Linked DNA regions of Homo sapiens: region 1 is linked to region 2. A link means that fine-mapping ties the variant in region 2 to the expression of a gene that starts in the linked region. Tissue or cell type: whole blood. Region 2 holds a variant in brackets; the other region holds the start of a gene. All regions are shown on one strand. Distances are from middle to middle.

The links. PIP is the estimated chance that this variant, and not a neighbour inherited with it, causes the effect.
Region 1: it holds the start of GXYLT1, and the variant in region 2 is fine-mapped to the expression of GXYLT1 in whole blood (INTERVAL, PIP above 0.99). The same link has a PIP of 0.9 or more in lung.

What each region holds. Positions count from the first base shown.
Region 1 is chr12:42,143,756-42,146,512 of GRCh38, forward strand. GXYLT1 (glucoside xylosyltransferase 1) reads right to left here and starts at 1,119. Exons shown (of 8, transcript NM_173601.2): 1 at 671-1,119. The coding sequence starts at 891. RefSeq lists silencers at 507-736, 817-1,316 and an enhancer at 1,477-1,546.
Region 2 is chr12:42,055,892-42,058,648 of GRCh38, forward strand. No RefSeq gene overlaps it. Among named protein-coding and RNA genes, the nearest start is that of GXYLT1, 88 kb to the right of the region's middle. The variant A/G (reference allele first, on the strand shown) is at 1,004.

The sequences.
Region 1 (2,757 bases), 88 kb after region 2:
TTTAAATACCAATTTGTCAAGAAAGGTAACTCCATCCCATCCAACAACAGACTTGAGCACGCCAAGTATCGCTCATTTTTCTTAATTTGCTCTAAGTTTCTTAATAAACTGAGTGTTTCCAAAAGAAAATTTCACAACCCGCACAAATGCCATTTCCAAATTTAACTAACCATGGCTAATACTTAGAAGTGTAAGCGTTAACACAGGAAAATCAGCATGAGGGACAAAATACACACACATATACACTCACACACACACACACAATCCTTAAACACTGAACTAGGGCGCCAGCCTCATGTTTAAATATCTCAACTTGAACTCCACTGAAACAAGAGGAAATTCTCACTAGCCAGGCAGCAGTAAGGCTTTTGTGGACACCTCTTATTTTCAAAGAACCCTCTTTTTAAAAAGTTGAAAATTAATTTCTAACTGCTTTAAAGGGCGCATGACTGGGTCAAAAGATAAACACAGAAAGTGTAGGACACTCTCAGGCGGGAGCAGCGCAGGTTTAGCCCCGGCCGGAGGGGAAGGAGGGAAATGAGTGAGGGGTCAGAGACAGGAGGAAAGACGCGGGAGACGCGGCACCCACCGGCGAGCAGCCCGGGCTAGGCCGAGCCCGCGCCCAGCGCCCCGCGCCCGCCGCGTCCCCCACACCGGGAACTGCCCGTACCTGTCCGACACGCCGGGATGCGCTGCGGGGCCCGCGACGCCGGCGCCTCTCACGGCGCCGCGTCCGCCGCCCGCGAGCCAGGAAGCCACCGCGGCCTGCGGCTTCCCGCCACCGCCGCCCGTTCCTTCTTCCAGGGACACGGCGAGCTGGCTGAAAGCGTAAAGGAGCGAGCAGAAGCCGCAGGCCACACACAGCACCACGACGCGCAGGTAGCGCCGCATCGCCCCGGCCGCGCTCCTCCTTCGCCGCCGCCGCCGCGCCCGCCCCGACGAACTGGAGCGGAGGGAGGGGCACCGCGCAGCCGCGGGCGCAACAAGTTCCTCACCCGCAGCCGCCGCCGCCGCCTTGCGCCCGCTCCCTTCCTTCCCTCCCCGCCCACCACCTAGGCGAGCGCAGTCGCGGCTCCGGAGCCGAAGGACTACCCGCCCGGAAGCCTGGACACCGCCTCTGCCGCCGCGCGCTCAAGGGTCAGCGGCAGCGACGCAACCCCGCCCCTCCCCCGGGCGGGAGGGCTGGACGCGCCGGCGCAGTTCGCGTGGGAGGGACGCAGGGCTGGCGCGCAGAGGGTGGTGTGAGTGCGCGGAACGCGGCGCGCCTGAGGGCTATAGCTAGCGCAGGCCGACGCGCAGGTGAATGGGAGCCCTGTGGGTCTCGACCGCCGAGAGAGGGGGAGCGAAAGCCTCAGGGCTCTGGAGGCAGTTGACCTAAATTCTAATTATGGTCCTTCCACATGGTAGTTTGTGACATTGGGCAACCTAAATTCTCTGAGCATGTTTCTTCGTCCCTAAAATGGAGCTACTATCCTCATCATGGGGTGGTTGTAAAGATTAAACTGTTTAACGCTCGAAAACCGCCTAACACTTAGAAGACACTTGACTAGGCCAGTTTCCTCTCCATCCTCCCCCAGCCTCTAAGTTTCTGTGATACTATAATGTGCACGAGCCATTTTCACCCCGATAAGCTCATTGCTTCGTGTGTTTGGTATGCGGACCTTACCTCTTGCCTCCCAGCAGACAGTGAGTTCCTGTAAGGCAGGGCTCTTCCCTTTGACCTTTTTGACCTCCCTCACAACTCATTATTTTCATGTGCAAAACAATTAGTATTCTCTCCACAGAGCTTCTTTCTTCCCCAGTTCTTCTCCCTCTTCTTCTGTGTTTCCACTACGTTCATTCATTGACCATTTATAAAGCATCACTTGTGCCAAGCTCTGTGTGAGTACCTAGGGGTATAAAGAGGCCTAAGTGGAGCGTGGGTGGGACAGCGGATACTTGTAAATAAGCGCAACGCAGTGATAACAGACTTAAGATCCAGGCCTGTAAGGGTGTGGGCATACACACAAAGGAACAATCAGTTCTATCTGTGAGTATGGTCAAGAGAGACTTCATAGCAAAGGTGGCGCTAGAGTCTTGAGTCGGGTAAGGGAAGTAATTCCAGGCTGAAGGATCAATAAACAGGCTCTTGTGTAGGGAACTGTTGAGAAGTTTGATACCACCAGCTAAGTGAATGCAAGAGAGGGTATGATGAGCGATAAGCGCGTAGAAGGGGCCAGATATTTGAGTGCTTTGTTTAGCACACCAAGGAGTTTGAATTTAATCTGCAAGACATTAGTGAACCATTGAAGGGTTTTTAAATAGGGAAGTAACATGATCACAATTGCATTTTAGAGAGCAGATTCTGGCTGTAGTGTGGAGGCTGAAACAGAGAGAGGAGAGATTGGAGGCAGAAAGCAGCACCAGTGCCAAAAAGTGAGGGAAGGGATACTTAAAAATACACACACACACGAACACACATTCATGGGGAAAAATCATGCGTTTAACTGCTGAAATTGCATCTGGGGCGTTGAAAAGTTTGGCCATGAGATACAAGGTGGGGAAATGCTGCGCAAAATAGTAGCAGTCTCCATTTGGATCCTTGGCTCCCTATACCAAAAAAGTAGTGGTTCTGTGACCATGATAAAGTCACTAAACAAATTTAAGGTTCAACTTCCTCCCCTTCTTGCTTTACCTGATAAAAAATGAACATTAGCATGCTATCAAGATGTGTAAAGAGAATGAGAACATACATTTATGCATTCAATAAACATTTAT
Region 2 (2,757 bases):
CATCTCCATTCTTTTCCTAAACATCAGGCTCCTCAATATTCCTAATCCTAATCCTACTCAACATTCTCTATCTCCTCCTCAGCATTTGTATTGGCCAGTGTAGCTCTTTCTCTTTTAAAAAAATTTTTTAGATTGATTCTTGGTTGGCATTTTATTTATTTTATTACTTTTTTTTTGAGACAGGGTCAGCCAGGCTGGAGCGCTGTGGCACAATCTTGGCTCACTGCAGCCTCCACCTCCTGGGATCAAGCTATCCTCCCACCTCAGCTCCTGAGTAGGTGGGACTACAGGCTCACACCACCAAACCCAGCAACCCAGACACCTCGCCACAAGCTCTCGCTCATATTTCCCTGAGAGCTCCAAATTCTTCACCCACACCAGAGCTTAGGGAGAACTGGTTAGTAGCTCTTTCTTGATCCTCCTCCCTTCAGACTTTCACTTCCTCAGCTTCCCTCACAATTGGGCAAGGTCTAATTCATATAATCACTTCCTTATTCTGTGACATTTTTGGTGGCTTTGCTTCCCTGACTGAACACCGACTGATAAAATGGCAGAGGAGGAAAAACAATTTCCCTCTACCTTTCTAAGTTCAGCAGCTGGGGCCCTGCCAATAAAACTGATAAAAGACAGATTAATAGGAGAAAAGGCATACAAATGTTATTTGATATTAATATGTTTACATGTACATGGAGGCCTTTGTAAAAAAGAAATGAAGATTCAAAGAAGCAAATAGGCTTGAGCACTTATATACCATTTCAACAAAGAATGCTAAATTCTGGAGCTATGACAGGTCAAAGGAAACGGAGGCAAGGGAATGTCCTAGGGGTGGTAAATGTGAGGCGTAAATATATGAGGAAATTAATGGTAAATAAAGGTTGTTTAGTAAGATTTGTTCTGCAGATTTGTCTTGGTGCATCTCAGGGCTGATAAGAGTTCTAGAGTCCTCTCAAGTAATTAAGAGTCCTGGTGATTAAGAGTTGTTCTCCTGGGAGCTGTGGCTCAC[A/G]CACCTGTAATCTCAGCACTTTGGGAGGCCAAGGCAGAAGGATCATTTGAGACCAAAAGTTCAAGACCTGCCTGGGCAACATAGCGAGACCCTGTCTCTACAAAAATAAATTAGCCAGGTGTGGTGGTGCACACCTGTAGTCCCAGCTACTCAGAAGACAGAGCGAGACCCCATCTCTTAAAAAACAAAAAGAGTGATGTTCCCCTTCCTGTGTCCACGTGTTCTCATTGTTCAATTCCCACCTATGAGTGAGAACATGTGGTGCTTGGTTTTTTGTCCTTGCGATAGTTTGCTGAGAATGATGGTTTCCAGCTTCATCCATATCCCTACGAGCTGATGGGTGCTGCACACCAACATGACACATGTATACATATATAACTAACCTGCACGTTCTGCACATGTACCCTAAAACTTAAAGTGTAATTTAAAAAAAAGAGTTGTTCTCTTCTTTCTGGTACAAAAGAGGTAAACACCTTTACAAGTAGAAATTTATGTCCTGCTTTTAGTCAGATGGAGGAGGGCAGAGAGTTTTTTCTGCATAAGCTATTTCTTAATTGCCTTCAGCTCAAAATAATCCTCATGCCAAAGTGGCATATTCTGGTTCCCTTCACAATATATGTATGTGTGTAGAAAAATGTCTGAAAAGATACATACCAAATGTAAACCCTGGTTATCTCTGAGCTTATGTGAATTTTTTTACCTTTTACTCATTTGTATTTCCTAGTTTTTAAAAGAATAACTGTGGGTTAACTAAGCTGAAATGATTAAAGACAGAAAAATTTCTATTTACATTACAACAATTGAGTAACAACCCATTCTTAAACAAGAACCTTGGTAGGAATGAATGGGACACAAACTACCTGGCATTCATATGAGAACCTTCTCTTCAATGTAGGCAGCCTGAAGTACTCAATTTATTCCCTGAGATGACTAAGGAATCTCTGAAATACTGTGGATATTTGTTAAAAAAGGAAAGACAGAATTATTATACCTTTTCAAACTTTTGATTCACTTTCACATTTCTTTACTGAGTCTTTTCCCACCCTGGCAAGGTAGATATATAAATCTTAGTTTTACAAAGAGAGGGACTGACACATAGGACAAAAAAGAGTCAACTAAAGAATTTATAATACAAATGTTTTATGCTTAATGTTTTTCTAAAACCATTGCAAATAAAGATTAAGGTATTTGTGGACATAGGCAAATTCTGTATGTGTTTGGTCAATCTTGGCAAGGAAGTGGTTGTCAAGGATTTTTTGTTTGTTTGCTTTCACAAGGCAGACTGATTTATCTGCAGGCAAAGTGGAAAGTGTTTAGAATAATTGATATGCTATAAAGTATTCATAATTAATAATTATTATAAATTAACTTCATAAATAACATTTTGGCACAAAAGAGTTGGCAAATGATCAGCAGATTTGACAATTCTTTAAAAATGAACATTGTAGCAAATGAATCTGTTGTGTGTAGCATGTAATTACAGTGCTGTGGATAAGGTGCTAAGCTATCAAAAGGAAAAGTATGCTCTAAATTGGCCTCCTGGAGCATGAGGGTTGTGAGAAGCACATTACAACACTCTAATAAATTACCCATGTCACCAGCTTGGGCAACATAGTGTGACTTCATCTCTACAAAAAAAATTTTTTAATTAGCTGGGCATGATGGCACACACCTGTAGTCCCAGCTACTCAAGAGGCTGAGGTGGGATCACTTGAGGTCAAGGCTGAGCCAAGATCATGCCACTGTATTCAAGC